Regions from separate parts of the Homo sapiens genome. Here region 1 is linked to region 2. Evidence: fine-mapped expression QTL. A gene starts in region 2. The other region holds a variant in brackets. All regions are shown on one strand. Distances are from middle to middle.

What was found. PIP is the estimated chance that this variant, and not a neighbour inherited with it, causes the effect.
Region 1: its variant is the best candidate, but not a certain one, in a credible set for the expression of CH25H in fibroblasts (GTEx, PIP 0.89).

The regions. Positions count from the first base shown.
Region 1 is chr10:89,113,024-89,121,369 of GRCh38, forward strand. No RefSeq gene overlaps it. Among named protein-coding and RNA genes, the nearest start is that of MIR4679-2, 54 kb to the left of the region's middle. The variant CTGAG/C (reference allele first, on the strand shown) is at 5,271.
Region 2 is chr10:89,202,738-89,211,083 of GRCh38, forward strand. It overlaps CH25H (cholesterol 25-hydroxylase), which reads right to left and starts at 4,580. Exons shown (of 1, transcript NM_003956.4): 1 at 2,892-4,580. The coding sequence starts at 4,555. The coding sequence ends at 3,737. It overlaps LOC105378418 (a long non-coding RNA gene), which reads left to right. Exons shown (of 4, transcript XR_946180.4): 4 at 1,694-1,762. RefSeq lists an enhancer at 4,352-4,421.

The sequences.
Region 1 (8,346 bases), 90 kb before region 2:
CTGTGTTCTTGGCACATTTGTCAAGAATTAGTTGACTGTAGGCAAGTGGGTTTATTTCTGGGTTTTCTACCCTATTCCATTTTTCAGTGTATCTGTTTGTATGCCAGTGGCACATTTGTCAAGAATTAGTTGACTGTAGACATGTGGGTTTATTTCTGGGTTCTCTACCCTATTCCATTGGTCAGTGTATCTGTTTGTATGCCAGTGTCATATTGTTTTGAGGACTATAGCTTTGCAGTACATTTTAAAGTCCAGCAGTGTGATGCCTACAGCTTCATTCTTTTTGGTAAAGATTACTATGGCTATTCAGGATGTTTTGTGGTTCCATACAAATTTTAGGATTGTTTTTTCTATGTCTTTGAAAATGCCATTGGGATTGTGTTGTTGTTATTGTTGTAGAGACAGGGTCTCACTGTGTTGCCCAGGTTGGTCTTGATCTTCTGGTATCAAGCAATCCTCCTACTTTGGCCTCCCAAAGTGCTGGGATTACAAGAATGAGCTACCACGCCCATCCAGCATTGGAATTTTAATAGAGGTTGCATTGAATCTAAAGATTTCTGTGGGTAGTATGGATATTTTAACAATATTAATTTTTCCAGTCCATGAACAAGGATATATTTCCACTTATTTGAGTCATCTTCAATTTCTTTCATGAATGTTTTATTGTTTTCAGTATATAGCTCTTTCACTTCCTTGGTTAAATTTACTACTGAGTTGTTTTTGGTGTTTTGGTTGTCGTTGTTGTTGTTGTTGTTTTTTGCTGCCATTATAAATGGGATTGTCTTAATTTCTCTTTCAGGTAGTTGATTGTTAATATTTAGAAACGCTATTTTTGTAAGTCAATTTTGTATTCTATAACTTTACTGAATTTGTTTATGAGTTCTAACACATTTTGTTGTGGAGTTTTTAGGATTTTATCTGTAAGATCAAGTCATCAGCAAACAGAATTGTGCTCTTTGTGTACTATGCCTTTCACCTCCAAGCTATCATTTTAGCTTGGAATGGCTAGGTAAAAGCTTCAAAGAAAAGAAACCATAATGTAAGTCTGTACATCAAGTCTGTAGTACATCACAACATTTGTATAAATATCAGAAAGTTCAATCAGTAATGCATGTTGGAAAACATATAGCCAATGTAAGAAATTCAGTTTTTATTTATACTGCCAAAAATTAAAGAGACATTGTCTAAATTTCCAAGTTGGAATGTAAAACTTCGGCCACTGGATTTCCAGTTGACTCTGACAAAATTCATACCAGAGAAAATATAGTAAACTTCAAGAGATGAGAATCGTGTGTAATATACACTACCATCTTTAGAAAATCAAAGTACAGTAGTAAAATTCAGTACTTTTAAAATCCAACATGGCTTTTTATCTAGAACTAGTAATATAGATGCAGTTGCCTAAGGTTTAGTTGGGTAAACAAATACAATTAGATGTTATTTTTTCAGAAAACATCTGGTCATCACTAACCTAGATTAAAGTACTGTGTTTGGGGAGACCCAGTAAACAAAAGTAAATTAAATAGATCTGCATGCTACACAAGGAGTTTGTAATCTTAAGTTTATAATAAAATGAATTCACTGATGGCAGCAATCCAGAGAAGTATGCTAAATTCATTGACATGTTGGTAATTATCACCAAAGTTGTACAAAGAACAATAGGAGTTCAAAGAAGGAGAGATCACCTGAAGTTCAGATAATCAGAGAAGAATCAAGGTAACATCTGAGCTGAGCATTGAATGGATGGATAATATTTGGGGAGGAACTGTCAGAATGAAAATCCAGACATTAAGAAATAATGCAAGCAAATCATTCTGGTAACTACCAGGCCTTGAATGTACCTGAATACACCCCTATTAAAGATTTCACCACTTTTTTATTAGTTTACTTTACTAATGTTTTACAAATCTAAAAAAAAATTGATCTCTACTGAATGTACGTTAATGTTCATAAAATGTATTCATTCAATTATTTCTTCTATGTGTCAGAAACTGTGTTATGGCTGAGAGGCAGAAGAAAGCCTATCTCCTGTCTCTAAGGAAACTGGTTTGTTTAGTAGCAGACAAGTAAGCACATTGTTAATTAAATATATGTGTGTTTATATATATAATTAAATATATATGTGTTTATATATATACACACATATATATAAACACATATATAGTAATAACACAATTTGAGATTTTCTGGATTTGGGAATAAGAGATCATGTCAAGCTTGTAGAAAAATAATTTTTAATGACTCCCAAAAGAATCTACTAATCTCTAAGTTAAAAAAAAATATTTTTGTCTAGAATAGAGAACAATGGGGAGGAAGGGCAAAGGGACTCAAATATCTGCAGTTAAAGGAAAAGGAAAATGAGTCAGAAAAGGTATTAAAAGAATTTGAAGAGAGTTTTGGTTTGAGAAGAATAGCATTTTGGAATAGCAGAAGATTCCTGGGATCAAGGCAAAGATGACATCCAAAGAAAGAATTCATGTCAGGAAACCTGGTAAGAGCCAAATTAAATGAAATAACTACCAAAACTATCTATTCCAGTAGCTGCTATGCATGTATCACCTTATAATGGATTTGGGGGATGGAAATTTCAGATTAAAAATATGAACTCTATATTACTATATGATCATACATTGACAATAAAATTTTTCTCTCTCCTCCTGATGACAGAGCTGAGATTCACTAGTCTCAAAATGTTGAGTGTTTTAATCTCTAAAGTTGTTGTATTTTTAAGCCATAGGAACCTCATCAAGGCATAACGTTTGTTGTTGTTGTTGTTGTTTGAGATGGAGTTTTGCTCTTGTTGCCCAGGCTGGAGTGTAATGGCATGATCTCAGCTCACTGCAACCTCTGCCTCCCAGGTTCAAGCGATTCTCCTGTCTGTCTCCCAAGTAGCTCGGATCACAGGCATGCACCACCATGCCTGGCTAATTTTTTTGTATTTAGTAGAGATGGGGTTTCACCATGTTAGTCAGGCTGGTGGTGAACTCCTGACCTCAGGTGATCCACCTGGCTCAGCCTCCCAAAATGCTGGGATTACAGATGTGCGCCACCGCGCCCGGCCGGCATAACGTTTTAATATATACTACATAAAGAAAATGGTGACTAAATAAAATATATAGCATTTTATACCAAATTATCCATATTGGAGAAGAGAAAGTATTGAAGGGTAACTAATCAAAATACATATTAAAATAATAAGGTTGGACACTGGGAGAAGACAAGTTTGGCTGCCAATCTGACAATGGCCCTTGGCATTTGCACTGTATAGGGTCCTGTCCTCTAGTCGCAGTTCATTAAAATAGTGATGACATCTGACTCAAGAAATGCCAAAGAGTCTTTTCAAGAATTTAAATGACTCATTGACTCCAGGGAGTCAACTCCTGGAACTTGAACTAAGAAGCCCTGTTGGGAACTGGGGTAACCATGAGCAAGCAGAGAAAAGCACCAAGATCAGACAGAAGCAGGGAAGGGTAATGAGAGAAAAGGAGAAGCACAGAAAGAAGTCAGTACACACCATTTGGAGATAGGGAAGTCAGTATAGGAGAAGGTGGTGAAGAGACAGGGGAAAGTTTCTGATGGCTTTCCTTCTTTTGCAGATGGTTCTTTGTGTAGTTCAAATGTGCTTCCTGCCTTGGATTCTAAAACCACTGCATTGAAAGTCCCCTTTATTTCCAAGTAAGCTATTTTGAATAACTTTTTAAAAATTAAGTTAGTGTGAATAAAAAGAAGTAGCCCCCGAGAAACAGAATGTCCTATATTTCAAAGTCATACTATTTTAAAATATTTGTTCTTATTCATCCAGGTCATAGTGTCACTATCTCTGATATCACTAAGGATTTCATATCTCTGCTATTACTAAGGATTTCATAGTTACTTGCTACTCCTTTTAAAAAGGGTGGATAGAAGAACTTCTCTAAATGTCTAGTAACTTTAGGGTTTTTGTATATTAAAAGATGCCAGGTGAGAGAAGACAAAGAGAAAACAAGTGGAAATATGGTTTTCTGTGGAAGGTATGATAGAATAATGCCCCACTTCCAACCCCAAAGATGTCTACATCCTAATCCCCAGACACTGTGACGTGAATGTGTTACTTCACATAGTCAAAGGGACTTGCAAATGTAAAAGTGAAGAACGTTGAGATTGGGAGATTATCTTGGACTATTCATGTGATTCCTACTAGGGAAGAAGAATGTACCAGAGAAGTGAGATGAAAGGAGGAAAGATTCAAATACAAAAGGACTTCAAATCACAGTTTCTGACTTTGAAGATGGAAGAAGGGAACCATAAGCCAAGAAATGTAGGGGCCTCTAGAAGCCAGGAAAGGCCCTCAATGGATAACTGCAATAAAAAAGGAGACCTCAGTCCTAAAATCACAAGGAATTGAATTCTGCCAACAGCCCAAAGGAGCAAGAAAATGAATCTTGTCCTAGAGCCTACAAAAGGAATGCAGGTGCCCTGCCAATGCCTTGATTTTAGCCCAGTGAAATTCATGCCAGACTACAGAACTGTAAGATAATACACTTGTGATGTTTTAAGCCACTAAGTTTGTGGAAAACTGTCACAGAAGCCATAGAAAACTACTATACCTTTTAAATCAAATTCTATGATTCTCAGTCTAGTAGGATATGACAGAAAAATGAAGTCAGACTTTTTCCTCAAGAACTGTTTTATCTTCAGTTGCTTTAACGATCACGTTTTCCTACTATGGTGCTGATTAGTTTTTTGGTAAGATTCTTGATCACAGAAGATATCAAATACACAGACTGAAGTTCAACACTTATTTTGAAGCTAGAAAATAAAAATATATATACATTCTTGGAATAATCTATTGCATACATACAGTATGAAAAAAATGAAGTAACTTCATAAAACAGTATCCATTTGTAAAATTCACTAGAGAATTCCAGTGTATTTCCATGGAACTATGCATTGTCAAGTTTTTAATTAGTCACACTAATTTCCCCCTTTGGTGTTAACTATCAAAGCATACTCAAATCTTCCTCATTGGCATTACACATTGGAGTTGCTCAATAAATGTATGTTGGACTTCAGTGTGGTGTTCTGCTAAGTACTTAAAATTCAATAGGGAAAAATAATCACAAGAATTTCTGTTAGGAGTTTGAGATAATTTGGTGGATAATTATGTGCCTTCCTATTACTGCTGGAGGGTAACAGCTGTCATGTATGACCCAAGTGCTGTTGTGAAGTGTGGTTTTGTGCATTCTTCAAAGATAACTAAGCATCTTTCATGTGTTACGACTTGTGTAGTC[CTGAG/C]TGATTAATCACTTTGATCCTTGAATCAAATGGGCTCTTAGGTGAAAGAAATATAAACACTTATGCAATGGGACAAGGGCTATAATTCAGTTATCTATAATTCACTTATTAAGAATCTACTATGCACTGGGTACTGGGAAGGGGGGTAGGCCCTGGGGAAACATAGATTAATCCCCTTGAGTATGGGCCAGGCTTTGTGACTCGTTTCTAATAAATGGAAGCTTCATGGATGAGGCTGCTGACTTCCAGTTCAGGTCATAAAAGACATCCTGCTTTCACCTGGTTCTCTAACCCCTCTTCCTGCCACTGTTCTTTAAGGAAGCCAAACAGCCACATGGAAAGACCACATTTAGGTGTTCTGAACACAGTCCCAACTGAGCCAATATCAGCTGTCAGACATGTAAGTCTGTGATATCTCAGATAATTCTAGCCCCCAGTCTGGGAACTGCCACAGGTGGCAATGAAAGGACCAGAGATGAGTTATCATTGGTGAGCCAGATCCATACTGCAGATTTTTGAGTAAAGTAAATGTTGCTTTAAGGCTCTAGGCTTGAGACAGCTTATTACATAGCTATAGATAGTAGAAACATGCTTTTTAAGAAAATATATTTATACCTACATTTATTTATGTTCTGTCTTTTTCCGTTTAACTTTAAGTTGCTTGAGGACAGAGAACCCATCTGTTTTCAGTGCTTGGGACAGTAGCTTGCTTGCGTATAATGGTTGGTTAATATTTCTGAAAAAAAAAAAAAAGAATGAATTTATTGTATGATATACATCTTAGAAAACACTATTCTGGCTTTGGAAAAGATAATTATATAGATCCAAGACAGGAAGACAAGCTGGGAAACTTGCAATAATCCAGGTAAGAACTGACAGTAGAAACTGTGGATATGATTGAAATCACTAGGCAGAAAATGTAGAATGAGGAGGAAAGAAAAAAAAAATCCAGATCAAAGCTTCAAGAAAGACAAAGCAAGGAGCAATTAATGGTTAAAGACCCTTTTAAAAAGTTTGTTAATTATGGAAAATTTCGGATATTCCCAAAAGTAGAGAGAATAGTAAAATGAACTCTTATGTATCCATCACCAAAGTTCAAAATTTAGCCATTTTGTGCTGTTTGTATTTTGTCTACAATTATATTATTTTAGGCTGTTCACAAGGATATAAAAGATTCAAGCAATATTTCTTGGTGCCTACTATTGAGAGGGACTACTTAGTGGTTTAGGATGATAAAAGTATGAATAAAACTGGGTATCACAGATTTTGGATTGCTGATAGAGAGTTGGGAAAGTGTACTATATCAGCAAGTCCAAGAAGAAAACACATACACAGGCAAACAGCATATCTAAGGAGTGTTTAATAAAGGAATTATTTACAAAGCTGTGAGTAAGGTTAAAGAAAACAAACAAGGAATGGTAAAATACACCAGCAAGGGGGTGTTTCTATCCTTAGGCCTGAAGAAGCAAAGGGAGAGAGCTCAGAGAGGGTAGCCGCAGCCTTTGACAGGGCCAGCTAAAAGAGCCATGGCCTTTAATAGAGGGAGGGAGCCAACTAGGAGCAGCTGGCAGAGAAGGAGGGGGTAAGTAAACACTCCCTCCTCACTCTCCTTTCACTCTGCTCTTGCTGGTGCTTCCTCTTGGTTGAACCCAACTGGAGTAAAAGTAAGCTTATTGACACACTCAATCCAGGAAAGTTTCCTGGAATACAGAGTTTTCCTGGAATACAGAGTGTGCCAGAGAAGGAAGCAAAGGGAATCTAAAGGGGCAAACAGAAAATATCCAACAAAAAGGCAAAATATCCAACAAAAATGTAGCCCTGTACATTTCAATTCAGTGTGACCAAAGCAACTACAAAGAAAAAATGCACACAATACAGAGATAGCTAGAAGTAAATAATTCCCTTTATCTTGCAAAAATAGTGCTTGAGTTGGCTTTGGGTTTTCTTTCAACTTTTTGTTAAAACATAATTCATAAAGGTTAAAAAATCATAATACATCTCAATAAATTTTCAGAAAGTGAGCACACATATATAATTAGCACCCAGATCAAAAAAGAAAACACTACCAGCATCCCAGAGTTCCCCATATTGCCTCCTCCAGCCATTATTCTCCTCAAGGGACACCACTATCCTGTCTTCTAATACCACAGATGAATTTTGTATGATTGTTGAACTTGATATGAAGTGAATTAAGTAGCATGTATTCTTTTGTGTCTGGCTTGTTGTGCTCAATTATTTGTGAGTGTTACCTATGTTGTTGTGTGTAGTTGCATTCTGCTCTATTTCATTGTTATATAATATCCTATTGTGTGAATATACAACAATTTATTCATTCTATGGTAGTGGAAATCCATAAGATTCCCAGTTTTTACATATTAAAAATAATACAGAGATGAACATTTGGGTTTTGAACAAAGACTAGGAAGTGACATTTGTGAAATGGACACAGAAGTGGGACTTTCTTGTGAAGGACAAACCGTGAACAATGGGATGGAGGCATGAAATAGCACAGTGTTTTGGGGCACCTCTAGGAAGCTGGACATCGCTGGGTTGTGGCAGGTGAGGTGAGAGTGACAGGACCTGAGTCTGGAGAAGCAGGAAGGGTCCAGATTCTTCAACAAGGTATGGGGATGGGCTTCAGTGAAGACTGAAAACAAAGGACTGGCTGTACCTGATAAGGATTTTAGAAAAATGACTGTCACAGTGATACTGAGAATGGATTGGAGTAAGAATCAGTCAGAAAACAGGAGGGCTATTTCGTGGGTTTCTTCCACATTCCAACACGGATAATTAACTGTGCTACAATGTTTAAATACTGGAATTTCCCCAGTCTTTAGAAATATCTTCCTTAGGAATGCTGCATTCTTGTGTCCTCAACTTTTGAAAGACTTTGGTTCTAGGTCAGCTTGCGTTCTCTTGGGGCTTTGATGCAGAAATCAGCAAAAGCCACTTGAGTCTCAGCACAAAGTGGAATCTTCACTATAGTTTTATATATTTATTTAAGTATTTATGAGGAAAAATCTGGCTTCTTATGTATATAAGAATACATGCTGGATGGGGAATCTAATCAGG
Region 2 (8,346 bases):
ATGGTAGATAGGAAAAAAATAGTTGTGTGTTTATGTTTATGTATGTGAAGAGAGAGAGAAGAGGAGGCATAGTGTGTGTATACACATCTAGTACAAATATAGCAGGTTTGTACATGTTTACATATATAGTGTGTGTACATATAATGTGTACACATATATACTATACAGTGTGCTTATATATGTGTGCATATATACAGCATATGTATATAGTGTTTAAATACATCTATGTGTACATATAATAGCATGTAGTCATAGAGTTTGTGTGTATAGTGTGTACATATATAGCGTGTCTACATGTTACATGCATATGCACATATACATGGTGTATGTGAATATACATGCGTATACACATTGTGCTTATTTACTAGAATGCAATGCAGTAGGACATTTATAGACTACATTAGGAGATGGTAGGGAGGATATTAATTATAAACAATACAGGTATTTTTTAGTAAAATGAGGAGCACCTTGAGGCTTGCCTCCCTATTGTGGTGAAAGAAGAGCCATTGAAGAGAGAAGGAACAGCTGGAGAATGAGGATGGAAAGGAGTTGAGAGAAACCTCACTAAAGCAAAGCAAGAACCACATTCCAAGATGAGCTGGTTTGTAAATAAAATTCCTCTAAAAAAAAAAAAGAAGAAGAAGAAAAGAAAGCCAAGGAAATGGAACACCAAGCAGGGAAAAGTCACTGGATTTGAGAATTAGGAAATTAGTAGGCAACCCAGAGCAAAAGTTTCCAGAGGAATGGGAGTAGAATGACTCAGAGGTAAAGAAGTAGAATCAAACAAACATAGACTTCTTTCTCTTTATAAAACTTTTGCCTTGAAAGGATGGTGGGAGAAGTAGCTTGTGATGGAAGCAGAACCAACAACTTGGCTTTATTTGATTCCCCGGAATATGAGCGAGCACAAGCATGTTTGTGAACAAAAAGCTTTGACCATTCTGAACTGCAGTCCTAGCACTCACACTGGGAAGCATCAGTCACAGCAAACACGACTACAGCCAGGATTTCGGATTCATCTAGCACTTTGCGTCTAGTAACTCAAAAATCCCTCACAACAACTCAGCAAGGAACAGTCTATGATCAACAGATAAGGAAGCTAAGGCAGAGAGGTTAAGTACCTTATCCAAAGCCACTCAGCTAGTAAGTCCCAGAACCCAGATTCCCACCCAGGTAATCTGGCTGCAATAGTTGCGTTTGTAGCACAGGTGCAATGAAGGATGCAGAAAACAGTCCTTGACCTGCCTCCTGCTCTCCCAGGGCTTGCTTAGACTGGCCTTGCTCTACCTCCCCTGGCTTTCTCCCCTACCCAGGCAGAGGCTTTGGCAGCCATGTGGAAGTGAAGTAGTGGGCCAGGGTAACACTGTTTTAGGGGTAGTAACAAAGGAGGAACAACAGAGGGAGGCCATTTGTTGGTGTTGCAGGGTTTGCAGCTCTCTGGCAGTTATCAGAAGAGAAGCACAGTATACACCACCAGACCTAAGTTTAGTAGAACTGGCTCCCACTCCTCCTATTTTGTAATCTGGAAAAAAGTACTTAACCTGTGTGGGTACCAATCCTCTATCCATAACAGAGGTGATGATGATAATAGTAACTATTCTACATCCCTATGGTGTTGTTGTAAGGAGCAAGTGAGAAATTGTGTGACAGCGCATGCGCATATGAACTTTTTCTTTACTATTTTTATTAACAGGTTCTCAAGCTATCTGAAAAATTGCTCATCCTTTCCACTTCCGCGGTTCTACCTCCCAAGGCATTAAAAACTGTTAAGACATTCGATTGTAAGAAAGTATTTCTAAATCCAAATTGTGCACTTTCCATGTGTATAATTTGCCCAAAATCTAAAATTACCTTATGCAGTGATGCAACATGATACATTTTTACAATTCTCTGAGGATACGCTGTGATAAATTGTTATTATCCATGATTTACAGGGCAGCTTTGGAGTGCCTACAGCTGCTTACAACTCATAGTTGCACCATAGATTCCACACCTGCCTGTTTATCCGTCTCTTCTTACTCCAGGTGCCACGTGCATCATGATAATAATATACTACCGTCAATGTAGCATTTTCTCCTCACATCTCACTTCCTCTTTTCATGGATTTCACTTTTATAAATCAATATCATCTTTAAATCCCAGCCTGGTCCTGATACAGACAGAGGAGGAGGTAACTTCAGTCAAGAAGCTAAAGGAACACACACGTTGAAGGGAACATGGGAAAACTGGCTGTGAGCTTCCACATTCTGGGGCATTCTGCCAAACATTTGGAGGGCCTAACCATATTTCTTGGGAGTCTCATTTGGCAGACCGTGGAGACCAGGTCTCTAAATGGATGCTTTACCTTTAAACATGACAGTTTGGTTCAAATATAATGAGCCAAGAATTACACACAAAGCTGCCATTCTTTATATTGTGTCTAAATTGTCTTGATTTTTAACTCTACACTATATATATTCCAAAAACAAAACTAAAATGAATAGGCAGGAGTTAGATGGGGTGAGTGATGGGTGATGGGTGTGTGGTTAATAATAGGAATATTTACTGTCATCTGCAAGAACATCTGGGACACCTCCTCCTTTTCCACATGAGGAATCAGGGATCCAGGGCCAAATTTCACTTTATCTTTCTTTTAGAAAGGGCTGTACCTGCTGCATGTATGTTTTAATTAAGAAAACTGAATATACAGAAATTCCAGATTTCAGAAGCAATGCTTTGATGTTCATTTGCAGTAGCTATGGATGGATTCATGAAAACAGGGGCTTCCTCAGAATCCCCTTGCACATCTATCAGCCACTCTAGTGTATACTATTGACTCACCAGTTTTGCAAAGCAAGGCACGCCTCCAATTCTGTTCTTCCCCTAATCCATTCCCACAAATAATAAAATGATTGACTGCTCAGCGTTAATCTTTCTATGAAACTTTACAGAGTAATCCTATCATTTGCCTGTTATACAGAAATCAGCTGAAAAGCATTAAGAATATTAGCGTGTTTTTCCTCCATGAAATTGCTAGAGCACAACAAACAGAGCCCCTTCTCCTGCCTCCTTTTCTCTAACAACCCCCAACAGAACACCCTACACCCAGATTCCTCTCTTTCCATGGTGAGGCTGATGGAGGCTTAGAAGGACACTTGGTATGCCCGCTCCCTCTTCCCTTTTTTATCAGTCAAAATACCAGTGAAACGGAAGTCAATACTTATTTGATTCATGGTTTTTTTTCCTTTTTAAAGCACGAATAACATTTCTTTCAAAATAAATATACAGTTCTATAAAAAAATATAAGAAGGTACTATAATTCTTGGTCACTGTCCAGCAGAAACATGTTTGATTGCTTTTAGAGTCAGAAGTCAACACCATCCACAAAAATACATTCTTTTAGCCAGGTTTTAGAACACTTTGAAACATAGAAAATTCCTTATTCTACAAACAAGTCCTTTTAGAGATATTCTAAATATGCCAGTGATGAATGTCTAATTCATATGCAGGATTCAAGGCTATTGAGGTGAGCTAGACTAAGAATACCAAGAACACAAAATTGTATTGATACACAAACAGTATGTAAATTACTTTGTCAGATTACAAAAATGCATCAGATTTTATCTATGGTTTTCATAGATAAACATAAAGCAATAAGTTAGTTGCTTTAAAAAAATATATAGCTCAGGTGTTTCTCTTCATTCAAGTGTGAAAGGCACAGCAGTCCCGAGTCTTAGGGGCACCCACCGCAGCCACATCACCGCGCTGGGACAGATGCAGTCCGCAGCGTTCCCAGTATTTTGTCCCAGTGTGTAAAGTACGGAGCGAAGTTGCAGTTAAAGTGAGAGTGATGCAGGTCGTGGTGCACCACACCCCCGTACCACCCGAAGGGCACCAGTCTGTGAGTGGACCAAGGGAAGTTGTAGCCGGAGTGGTCCTCCACGGAAAGCCAGATGTTGACCACGTGGAAGGTCAGGGTGGTGAGCGGGTGGCACCCGAGCAGTGTGACGTTCATCATGTCGAAGAAGCCCAAAGAAAACAGTTCCCAGACGCTCATATACTGCGTTGCCAGCGCGAACGAGGACGAGTTCTGGTGGTGCACCTTGTGGAAGGTGCGGTACAGCCAGGGCACCTTGTGGTGCAGCAGGTGCCACACGAAGAACTCCATGTCGAAGAGTAGCAGGCAGAACAGGATGTGGTGCAGCAGCAGGAGCAGCTCGGGAGCTTCGTGGGGCAGGAGGGCCGGGCTGCGGGCCCAATGCAGCAGCGTCACGGGGAACACAAACATCACATGCTGGTAGAGGGTCTGCCCCAGGCAAGGTAGCAGCTGCTGCGCGGATGGCGAGAAGTCAGGGTGGATCTTGTAGCGCCGCAGGGCGGGCACCCAGGAGCACAGGATATCCAGGACCACGAAGGGCAGGCAAAAGCCCACGTATGTGGTGATGGAGAAGATGACCGGGAAGAAGGGCGACTGTAGGAGGGCCTCCCAGCTCCTCAGGTGGTCCCAGAGGGGCTGCAGGAACAGCTGCCCGGAGCTGCAAAGGACCTGGGGGTCGGAGCAGTTGTGGCAGCTCATTGCGAGGCTGTGCAAGGCAGCTGAGGCTGCTGCTCGAGTCCCATCGACTTTTCACAGGACTCACGGCCCCGCCCCGAGTGATGTCAGCTGCCTTTCCATCCCTTTCCCGGCGATGCGAAGCTTGAATAAGCTAGCAACCCGGCAGAGTGGCCCTTCATTGCTGTAAATGTGCTCATCTATAGCCGCATCTTACCGGCTTTTAGATATGCGTGTATGCAGTGGCACTTCGTACTTTTCATGTAAGTTCTGATTTTTCAGTTGACGTACAATTAACACGGGACACAATGTACAGATCTACCGTGTGGAGTTTCTATGAGTTTGGCAACTCAGTTCACGTGTGTCATCACGGGTCTCAAACTAGACCGTTTACATTGCCACCAGAAAGCGCTCCTTTGCAATCAATGCAGAATTGTTTGTGTTTTTTAATGCATACGTATAACTGCATCCATGTGCTTTCATAAAGACGCAAGCATAATCGCATTTTAAAAACTGTTTAAAGCTACATGCGGTCTGTAGCTCGGGTGTTTTCTGAGAACCCGGTTGCGGTCTATCCAGCGGCGATCGAGAAACGAGCCCTTTGCACAGGGAACCGCTGGTCCCCGAACGCCGGCGGTGACCGTCAGCTCAGGAAATCAGACGGGAAGGGTGGCCGGATGGGAACCTCCGCCAGCTCCAGCTTGTCCCCAGAGTTTTCCTGGCCGGCGGGCAGCAAGCTAGAGAGACCACGCACGCAGGCTCTCCGGGAGAGGCCGCAGCCCGGCCGCGTAGCTACCCTCGGCGGCGCGTCCCGGGGCGCCGGGCCCGCGATCGGAGCCGGAGGCACCGCACAGCGGAAAGAGGGCTCCGCGGCGGCCAGGCTCAGCTTTGCCGGGAAAATGCTGGATTTAACTCCCAGTCTGCGCCAATCTGGCTAAAAAGCCCGTTGTATCTCAATTTGGGGCGGGAACACTTAATTCAGCAAACCACCTGCGTTGTTCGTCAAGGGAAAGAGATGTGAGTTCCTGAAGCCTCCCGGGAGGCTATTGAAGGACCAGGTGATGTCGTCACTACCCTACCCTTCCCCTTGTTGGCTTTGCGGGGCCAACTTGCAGTCGCCCTCTGCCACCGGTCCTTGAATCCACTCCGGGCCCACGGAGCCCGGCTAGGGGGCTAGTCTCTATCCCCTGCGTTTCTCCGCCACCCATCTGGGGTCCTCGGGCCAGGGGCCACCGAGCACAAGGAGGTCGGTACTAGGAGAGCTCTTGAGAGACCCTGGGAACAGCACAAAAATCCTCGCGTTCAACCCGGGGTCTGACACATGACACGATACAAGGGCCCCTTAGGGGATAGACGTTTTAGACACCAGCTTTGAAGCCAGGGAGCACTCCTAATTCTTGCTTAGTGTCTTGTATCTATGTGGTTGTGTCCAGCCCTTTACTCCTTGAAGCTTGCATTTTCTTATCCCCCCGATTCCCCACAAAGGGAAATTGGAGTATTAAATGGAAAAATAATAAGTCTACCGTGTAAAGCCCACCTACTAGGTGCCACGCATTGGCTAAATGTTTTATCTGAATTGATTTTATCCAATCCTCAAAAAAGCTGGCTTCCTCACCCTGCCAAGAAGTAGGATTATTATTATTGCTGTGGGTTTACAGCAGTAAAATCATAGGTCCTAGCACACAGCAAACACACCAAGTAATATGCATGGTATTTTAAATTTGTACTCCACACGTTACCTAAAGAATAACTGAGAAATTTGAAATTAAAATCAAGTAAGATTATGTAAAGAGAAATAAAAGATATAACGCCATCTATTATGAGGAAAGAACAAGTACTACAAAAATATGGACCAATATATGGGCCTAAAACTAAGATCATATATGGTATATATGCATACATATGATATATATAATATGCCAATTCATAATATGTAATATATAAGATATAGATACATATAATAGGCCAATTTGTAATTCAGAATCTCCTAACTGGTGTGTGTCCACTAACTGCCACTGATGGAATACTGACATTCCTTAGATGCTCATTCCCAGGAGCCCTCAGCAGTAGCCTCTAGCCCTACAGCAGCCTTTTTATTTAACCCAGGGTACTATGAAAACATTATTATATTCTGCTGACATATTTGCTGTTGATGAGATAAAGGTTCAGAAGCAGTGTTGAGTTTCTTGACAGCCAATACAAAAAGGGAACAAGGGTGAATTTTTCTAATGCTGCTGCTTTGATTTCTAGATGATAGCAGAAAATAGGTATAATGTAGGCCCCTAGTTGCTTCCAGTTAAACAACCTGTCCTTCCAAGGCTCTCCACCTCTACCGCCCATGCGCCCCCACCCCCCACAACATCTCCTCCCTTCCCCAGTGTTGTTTTCACTTCACTTTTAGGGTAAACCAGAAACTTTTCTTCTCATTCCGGCTAGACGTGGTCTTGTCCTTGATGCAGTGTTTCAGAGAAGAGCGTCCTTCTCACTGCTCCAAACGGACCATTAGAGCTCACTTTCTCAACATTAAAATTGGATTTCTGCTCATAAGTAAAATATCACTCAAATTTACCCTCAACAGAAGTTAGCCCTCAAATTTCCTTTCAGCACACATTGTCCTTTTCTTGTGGTCTCAGTTATCATGCTTGGGTGCTCTGGTTGCGAGAGCAAGAAAGATTTTTTTTTTAAGTGAGTGGCATTAGCAGGTTTGCTTAATTTGGATTTAGCTGCTAGATTTGCTGTCAAGACTGTCTCCTTTGAGTCCCCAGCCCCAACCAACCCATTCATTTTCTGCTTTGGTGTATCCACCGTCTATCGCTGTTAGAATAATGTCCATGTGCCAATTACAGAAGGCCGTGGGCAGCAAAACTTGAGAGCGCTGGCTTCAGCCTGCTTTGTCCATACTCTCCCCCGTGACTTTGTGGCACTTTGAAGGATAGCAACTAGCTTCTCTGCCATCTCTGCACTTGCAGCTGACCAGGACAGAAGTTTTTGTCTAACATACAAATGCAACCATCCCAGGGAAATTGATGAATTACAGTCCTGTTAGTTCTCCACTCTATATCATGTGGAATGCTGAACAATATGTCAGGTAACCAAAAACAGCATCACTTAATGGACCAAAATAAAATTGAACACTATCAAGTGCTGACTAAGGTGGTATCATTTCTTGAATTTGGCACATGCGCACCTTTAAACAGTTTTTATTTGCACAAAAATGTAATAGCTTGCTAGATGAATAGGTCTTTTTAGAGCACAGGGTGTATCTTCTAGGACTTCTTCTCACAGTGCCAAGCATTGCATCTTGTATGTAATGAGTGTTCAAAAGATATTTGTGGACTCAAGATTCATTTTAAAGGACATTAGCTCTAAATTGAGGCTAAAAAACAAATCTTTTTTTTTTTTCTGGAGTACTGCTTGATGTAGTTTGGATCTACCCACCTGTAAAGATGGTTTTCCCTAAAACGGGGTGTTTTCTGATTAGAACTTTGGCCACACCATTTCTTGTCCAATTGATGGTTTTCCGCAAAAGGGGGTGTTTTCTGACAGGTAGCATTAGAACTTTGGCCACGCCATCTCTTCTCCAGTTGATCATGGCTTCCTGCATATGGTTTTTATCTTAGTATGGTTTTTCTGGCGGAGTTGGAGGACAGGAATCTTTTATTTTCTGCTTATCACAGGGGTCAAATCACTTTTCTGAGAGTACAACAGTCAAGTTTGTGCACACTCATCACAATCTCAAAGTTATGTGGCACCAACTTACCAAAAGACTGTGGATGCTGCTCCCCTTCCCCCAGCAAATAGAACATGTAGTTAGC